Linked DNA regions of Homo sapiens: region 1 is linked to region 2. The links come from fine-mapping of genetic effects on gene expression. A gene starts in region 2. The other region holds a variant in brackets. All regions are shown on one strand. Distances are between the middles of the regions.

Region 1 (4,388 bases), 72 kb after region 2:
AGCCAGTTTCCACCCATAGTTATTCATGCATAACTATGATAAAAATCATAGAGGGGAAGAATTTAACCTATGGAGACAATAAAGCAAAACAAAACACAAAATAAAAAAAAAAAGTAAGACCTCTTAAATTGTTGATTTTGTTTTCATAGAACACACTATGTATATCATTTATCCACACCCTTCATGAACATTAATTATAAGGAACTTTAGTATTTAATCAGTATCAGACTTTGTTTGGATAACTTGAGGAATGTTACCATATGTCTTGTAAAGATGGTGACATTAAAAAAAACACAGTCAAAACTACAATATAGCTGTTGTTTCTTGACATTCCAGCAATGAGAACTCTTTTTTTTTTTCTTTTGAGATGGAGTTGCGCTCTTTTTGCCCAGGCTGGAGTGCAATGGCGTGATCTCCGCTCACTGTAACCTCCGCCTCCTGGGTTCAAGCGATTCTCCTGCCTCAGCCTAGTAGCTGGATTACAGGCGCCTGCCACCACACCTGACTAATTTCTTTTGTATTTTTAGTAGAGACGGGGTTTTGCCACGTTGGCCAGGCTGGTCTAGAACTCCTGACCTCAGGTGGTCCGCCCGCCTCAGCCTCCCAAAGTGCTGGGATTACAGGTAGGAGCCACCATGCCCGGCCCTAAGAACTCTTGATAAACTGATATGTGTGCCTCCCAATAGCACAATAATAATGGAGACATTCAATACCAACTGTGGAGCTTTAAGAGCTTTTGCAGGGCTGTTAGAATCAGAGAAAGTATAAGGTACTCCAAGGTGGTTTTGTCCTCATTTTGTCACATTTACATTTAGAAAATGCTTATAAATTTTTAGATGAATCAGCACATCCAGTTTCCACACAATTCCATATAACAAAGAGTTTACAGCATTTTACTGACATTTTCAAAGAAGATACAGAACAATCACATTGGGATGCGAGGGGGTCAGAAATTGGTGAGACTGTTTTTCCTGGCTGAAAAGAGAAAGGGCCTCAAACTCATAAATTAGCAACAATTATGCTTTTGTGCTATGTCACTAGATTCCGTTAGATGTCTATCTTTGTAACTTTCTTACAGACTAATTCCTCACTGCTAGCAAATTTTTAGCCATGTAACCCAGAGTTATAAAGGAAGGCATTTTTTTTTCATTGCTATTCTTAAACACCGCCCCCCTTCTTTTATAACAAAAACTGAAGTAAATATAGTATGTGTTCTGGAGCTTCATTTTCTAAGGCTGGCTATCCTCGATAGGATTGGATGAACAGGGTAGGTATTGGAGTTAGGTGGAACCGGGGGCAACAGAACTGGCACCAGAAGTAAGGCTGAAGTGAAGCCCAGCATTCTAAGGGTGTAGCTAGCTTACCTGTGGTTGAAGCCAGACACTGCTCTGGGATTCTGATATGGTTAGGCTTTGCGTCCCCTCAAAATCTTATCTTGAATTATAATCCCCGTAATCTCCATGTGTCAAGGGAGGGACCCAGTGAAGGTAATTGAATCATGGGGGCGGTTTCCCCCATGCTGTTCTCTTGATAGTGAGTGATTTCCCATGAGATCTGATGGTTTTATAAGAGGCTCTTTCTCCTTTGCTAGGCACTTCTCCTTCCTGCCACCCTGTGAACAATGTGCCTTGCTTCCCCTTTGCCTTCTGCCATGATTATAAGTTTCTCCAGCCATGC[T/C]GAACTGTAAGTCAGCTAAATCTCTTTCCTTTATAAATTACCCAGTCTTTCACAGTTCTTTACACAGTATGAAAATGGACCAATATGGGTTTCCACCAGGAGCTTGGAGTCCAGTGGATACTTCGGACTTTTGCTCATATAGTAGTTCCCCCATAACCAGAAGGGATTCTAAGAACACCAGTGGGTGCCTGAAATCTCAGATGGTACCAAACCCAGTTGCTGTAAATCAGAACACATTTCTGTTAATGTCTTCCAATGACAAATGTAATGACTTTTGCATCTTAACCAAGCACTTATTATGCACTGTGGCTATAACTTTTGCAGTTTGAAGTACAACAGCACAAATTTATTTTTTGTTCTTCACAGTTTAATGGATAGAAGATTTGCTCTTACAATAAATCTTAGCAATCTCAGAACATTTTATATATATATATATATATTTATTAATGAATACTTACAGGAAACATTTTTTAGCTCCTCTTATATTTGAATTGCTAGCATCACTGCTCTTGTAGTTTGGGGCCGTTAGCATGTAAAATAAGGATTACTGGAACACAAGCACTGGGATACCATGACAGATGATCTGATAAGAGATCCTGTTACTAAGTAATTAGGGAGCCAGTCAAGTGTAACTGTGAATATGCTGGACAAAAGAATAATTCACAAGAAGGACTGGCCAGAAAAGTGGGTCAGTAGCTCTTCTCACTGTGGGTGAGAGTGGAAGCTGAAACCAGAACTCCAGATTAGAAAAATTACAGCGTAGAAACCACAGCAGAAGACAAGTCTATGACTGGTCAAGATACGTAGTGAGGAAGATTGGAACTGAGGGATCACATTGACCTTCCTGACTAGCTCTGCCAGTTCCAGGTCCTTGTCTGACTGGCATTGAAGGAAACATGAGGAGCAAAGAACAAGCCCAGAAAGTTTCTAGATGATTATATTTCTCCTATACCAAATCACAAAGATTGTCAGAGTGAATGCAAAGCAATCCCCTAAGTTCTTAATCAATGTATTTATTGATATGGTTTCCTTTTGTAGCAAGATACTAATAAATACATTAAGAACCTATTATAGTCTAGTGGCCAGGCACTGTGGCTCATGCCTGTAATCCCAGCACTTTGAAAGGCTGAGGCGGGTGGATCACTTGAGGTCAGGAGTTTGAAATCAGCCTGGCCAACATGGTGAAAACCCACCTCTACTAAAAATACAAAAATTAGCTGGGTGTGATGGGGTGTGCCTGTAGTCCCAGCTGCTCGGGAGGCTGAGGCAGGAGAGTCACTTAAACCCCGAGGTTGAAGTGAGCTGAGACTGCACCACTGCACTCCAGCCTGGGTGACAGAGCAAGACTTCCTCTCGAAAAAAAAAGAAGAGAACCTATTATAGTCTAGAAACTTTAAGTAGCATGATTTCTTTAAATCCTAGGTACAATAATCTCTTGGTATTCATGGGGGATTTGTTCCAGGACCTCTGTTGGATATCAGAATCTGCCGATGCTCAAGTCTCTTATACAAAATGACACAATATTTGCATATAACCTACACATATTCTCTCGTACTTTAAACCATCTCTAGATTACTTATAATACCTAATACAATGCCTATACATCACTTCATTCCCATGGATTCATTGTAGTACTTGGTATGAGGTAAACTCAAGTTTTGCTTTCTGGAACTTTGTGGAATTCTTTTTTTCCCAAATATTGTCAATCTGTGGTTGGTTGAATCCACAGATGGCAAACCCACAAATATGGAGGACAAACTGTACGTTACTTTCATTTTATAGAATATAAAACTGAGGTTCATAGAGGTGAAAAGAATGCCCAAGGTGATAAGGTAAATTGTGAAGCCAGGATTCAGAGCCATGGCAAAAGGCAGTGATTTTTGCACCATGCTCTGTAGACACTTTTATTTGGTAGCTTTTGCTGATCTGTTTTTTCCCTTCCACCCAGCGTGCCTATTAATATAGCTTATTTAATTTGTAAGAATTACTTTTAAGTTGTTTTGATATTCTTTGGACTGCAATGAGAGCTAGGATGTCCTTGAGACAGAATATCCTCTTGTGCTTTTAGCCTCATGGAAACCAGTACCCAAAGCATGTGGCTGAGACCCTGGGGTTGACTCCACACTGCACTTCAGAGTGGTTGACAAATTGCTCATAGCTGTCTGGGGTTAAAGAACTCATCTCTGAGAACACAAGCTTTTTCATTCCCTTTTTAAAAAAGACAAGTGTGCCTTCTTTTATTCTGCACTTCTAATGATTGCTTTACTTTGAAATGGTCCCTGCACTTGTTATTTTGTCTCACTAGTATCTTCACTCTTGCACTCCTCTCAGACTTAACTTCCATTTTTAACCATGACAGAATAGCTTCTTATTCCATCTAAGCCTTTTCAGATGACACAGGAAGAGATATCATTATATCTCTGTTGAAGAGAGATATACACTACTGCTTAGAAATACTTCTTGATTATTGCATTTAATTGGAGTGGGTGGCCTATTAATACTGATGGAGGAAGAAAATGAATCCTGCATTTAATATGAAAATGTATTATGAAGTGCTTAATGCAGATTACTTATCTAATGATTGAGGTTAACTGATGTCAGTGGTTTTCAGACTGTTGACAGCAGAAATTAAAAAGAAAGCTACCACATATATGGAAATATATTTAGTAAATAAAGGGAGTTTTGAAGGTCACTCTCTGTGTTAGTCAATT
Region 2 (4,398 bases):
GGACAGACTATCAAATAAAAATATTTTATTACACAATGAAAACCGTGTCTGCTAAATAAAAGTGGAATGTAATGTACCTGAATGTTAAAATGTCTTACTTAATGGTTATGTAAGGCATGCTGGCTTAGTCTCACCACCCCTGGGGTTATGATATGGAATTGCATTGATTGTAGTCCTATTTTAATAGTGTATTGGTTGGGCAAAGGAAAGAGGGGAACAAATTTAATAATACTCTGGACACTTTACAGAGAGGTAAACAATAATAATTCTCCCAGTCTCCCCATGTTTCATGACTGTCCTAAAGAACACCTGAATGTTAAGCACATTTGCTAAAGTATTTCCCTTTCCTGAATATTGTTCCCCCCGCATATGTCAGAAGACAATGTAGAGAAATGTTTTACTGGTATAAAAGGACTTTTTTTTTTCTTAGTTCTTCCTTAGAAATGACAGTCAGTGTCCCTGTAAAGTAAAGCGAAGGGGTGAACCAGGGCAGCCTCAGGGTTAAATTACAGGTGCTCTGTGGAAACTCCATGCCTTGTGGTGTAGTAAAGCTAGTGGATAAGCATTTCTTTCTCCCTGTAAGTTACTTTCCCTTGGCTTCTCCTCCTTACCCTTGAGACTGGGTACTGAAGCAGCTGGGCTCTTAATGGGTCAGCACCCAAGTTTGCAGAAACAGTTACAGAGAAATGAAGACAGTGACAGAAGCTGCATCAAAACAATATAATCTTTGAATCACCTGCAAAGTCTTCCTCCATCTCCCCCTCTTGTAAATGCCCTGTAAATTCTTAAAGGAAGTCTTTTGCTCTTAGTAGCCTTTTTTCAAAAGCATTGAGCAAAAGCAGAAATGATGCAAGTTTAATCTCCTAATTAACTTTGTCGTTCATTTCCAGTTAATTCTGGAAGGTTCACAATTTTTCTTTAAGACATCAGGGGACAGTATCTGGAATCTCACTGTGGAACATATGACTAAACCCCAAATACCTGAATATCCAACTTAACCACACCCAATCCCATAGAGAAGAGTAAGGGGGACAAGTAAACAAAAGAATACAAAAAAAAAAAAAATACCAAGTTGAGGCTTATAGTCCCATATAAAGCAGGGTACGCAAAAACATACCTGTATTCTTAAAATATTTCACTTCAACTGAAGATGTGTTAAATAAAAAGTTTAAACGGAAAAGTGGACACTGCCACAGACGAGAATAGAGAATTAGGAGGTCTAAGATAACAAGAACCTGCAAACTTCAGCTCGACAATATTACCAACAGAATAAATTACTATTTTAAGTGTAAGCTTAATTTCAAAGCAATGTAAAGCAGCAATTCTTATACCAGTTGAGCATAAGCATTACTATATCAGACAGTCAAAGCAGGAAACCTGGATAACTGATTTGTTAAAAAGGAAATCTCATTGACTTACAGACTTAGACTTAGCTAAGCAGTTTTCATCTTCACTGCACATTATAACATTAACTTATATCTGCAGGTTCCTGAAGCTGTGCTATGCAATTACAGTTTGTTCTATGGAAACTGAGGCACAGGAAGAAGGAGAAACAGTTTCCATATTTAAACTGTGTCTGCAGAAGCTGAGGACAGAGGTACTCAGGATAAATCATCTTCTTGTTTCCCAGACATTAATTAGGTGTTTCCCAGCCTGAAATACGGAGTTCTGGACACGAAGTGCCAACCATATTACTCCCCTGGTTAGTGCTGCTCTACAACCAAAGACACAGGGTTAAGTCCAAGAAATTACCAGACAATTTTTTAAAGTGCTAGAACCCACAAAAATGGCAGGGGATGAAGCTACACGCCTTCATACAGTCGATTTGCCGACAAGCACTTTCCAAATGCTGACGCTGCAAGTCAGGTACTAGTTTTCAGTTTAATAAAATTGCCATTTGAATCATATATGGGGGAGGAATCGACTTGATCGAGAAGCTAAAGAGGGATATTTGGTTGCAATTACCCTTATTTTGAAACCAGACAAATAGACTGAAACCAGTTAAGAGGTCTTAAACTTTCATCTACAAAAGGACACACCAGCCCCGCACCGACCAACCCTTGTGAGATTTAAGCATTAATTATATAATAGGAAATCAGGTTAAAAGCAAGATGAAGAGGTGGGATAATGAAAAGATCTTCCGGTTAAGAAAAGTAAAAATAGAAAAGTGAGTTACAAATGAGAAAATCCGACAGAAACCAAAATGAAAACAAACCTTGCTTTTTAAAAAGAAGAAAAAAAAATCAGTGTCTGTACAGCAGAATGGCAAATTCCCAGCCCCCAAATCAGCCCCGGTGCAATCTGGTAGCGCGGATCTCGGTAACAAAACATAACTCCCCAAGGCAGAGGCCGCAGGGAACTATGGAAATGAACCTGAAGAGCCAACCTGACGTGACTTCCAGAGCCCTCCTCCAGGTCACCCTCTGGGCCCCTCTCCCTCCCCTCACTCTTCAGGTCCCAGTAGCGGCTCCTTCCCAGGGCACGCCTCCTCCACGGCCGCAGGGTCCTGGGCGCTCGGATCGCGCTGGACCTTAGCTGCGGACCCTGCTCAGCGCACCTCCCGGCAGCCGCTCCCCTCGGCTGGCTCTGCCCTCCCCGTGCCCGTCCCACGGGCTCCCAGCGCCCTGGGCGCTCGCGCCCTTTGGACCTTTCTCCCTCAGCTCGCTCTCCTGGGACTCACCAGTGGGATTCGGGAGAAGTTGGAGGCTGCTGAGCCGACACATCCCGACCAATGAGCGCACGGGGCCGGGTGGCAGTGGCGGGCTGAGAGCCCAGCCAAGCGCCTCTCAGTCCGTGCATCCGCCCAAGGCGCGCGGGCTCCAGGCTGAGGCCGGACTTGGGGGAGGTTCCGGACCCGCCTCCGCCCGGGCCGTGGGGCGACGAGGCACCTGGGCATCCCTCCGACCCGCACCCACAGAGACTCACCGTGACCCCTCAGCAGATCCCGCGCCAGGAGTTGGGCGGCTGCTCCAGCCTGCTCTCGGTCAAGCTTCGCCACTTGCACATCTCCGCGCCCCGCGCGTCTCGGCGCTCTCACGGCCCACCCCCCCCACCCCCTACCCCGCCTCGCCGCTGCAGGACCAGAGAGAGGAGCAGTTCCCTGGGTGACCTGAAGGTTTCCGCTAGGTCTCCCAAATCCAGTCACTTCATGTGAGGGGGCCGGGGAGACGGGGGGCGGGCGGTGGCAATGAAAATGTCCCATCCTCCCCACCCCCCATCTCACCATTCCCAAAAGGGCTTTGCTAAACATTTTTAGAATTGCTTAGCTTCGGGGCTTTCAAGAAAACAATACACGGGCTCTTCGGGATTCTCTAGTCCTGAGGGGGCTCCATCTCTCCCCTGTGGACCGGAGACTATAATGCTTGCCTCTTCTCACGCTCTTCTTTCGCTCTCTTTCCCGCTCCCTTTCCTCCCTGAATCCAAGCTTCCTTCCTTCTTCATTTAAATGTCCTCTCTCCCTCCCTCCTTCGTTTTCTTTTTTCTTACTCTCCCTCCCCGTTTCCTTCTTTCCTTCCTTGCTCCTGCTTTCTCCACCCCGCTTCCCTCTTTCTTCCCTTTCTTTTCCTTGGTCGAAGTACTCTCATGTCAAGATCTGAACTGAAACTCTCCGCTCCCACCTCCTGACTTCAGGGAATCTTAAAACGTGTGTACATCGGAGGTTGAGGGTGGGGAGTGAGAAAGAGAAAAATAAACTAAAGTGTGTCTGCTCTACCTACTGAAATCAGCCGTAATGCGCCTGGACCCTCACAGTTTAATGCAAGCAAGCAGCGTACCCCTTTCACTCAAGACACAGCGATTCCTCCTCAAAGGGGTAAATACAAACAAGGAAATAAATACTTTAGGCACAAAGGCAGTTTCTTTGTAAAAGCTACCTTTAGCAGCTATAATTGCCAAGGAGCTCAGAGGAACTAAACTTCCTTTTTTTTTTGCTTCCAGTGTACAAGTACCTTTAATACTGATCCCTTTCCTCTTTTGAATCACAGGTAATTACACACACACACACACACACACACACACACACATACACACACATATTCACACTCCACTGCGGAATTCATACTGAAATAAAACTGGGTTTGCAATTATCTGTTTTTAATATCAAAATGATTTGCTGCTTGAGAAGAGTCCCCTTGTGCTAAAAAATTTTCCATCTTTTTCATAGCAGAGAAAGCTGAAAAGCAAGGAGAAAAGGTAGTTCATCCTAATAAGTGGAATACAATGGAGAGACATTTCCCCAAAAAGCTAACCAATCTTTAAATAATTCGATTAATATAGAGGAAAAATGGAGTGTGTAGACCTAACAAGTGCTATTGACGTCTATTTACGCTTTCTCTGTGCATCTTACAGACACTATTTAGTCCTCACAACAATCCCGAAATATTGGTGTTTTCACTCCCA

What was found. PIP is the estimated chance that this variant, and not a neighbour inherited with it, causes the effect.
Region 1: its variant is the best candidate, but not a certain one, in a credible set for the expression of MME in whole blood (INTERVAL, PIP 0.64).

What each region holds. Positions count from the first base shown.
Region 1 is chr3:155,005,892-155,010,279 of GRCh38, reverse strand. No RefSeq gene overlaps it. Among named protein-coding and RNA genes, the nearest start is that of MME, 72 kb to the left of the region's middle. The variant T/C (reference allele first, on the strand shown) is at 1,678.
Region 2 is chr3:155,078,284-155,082,681 of GRCh38, reverse strand. It overlaps MME (membrane metalloendopeptidase), which reads right to left and starts at 2,363. Exons shown (of 23, transcript NM_007289.4): 1 at 2,216-2,363.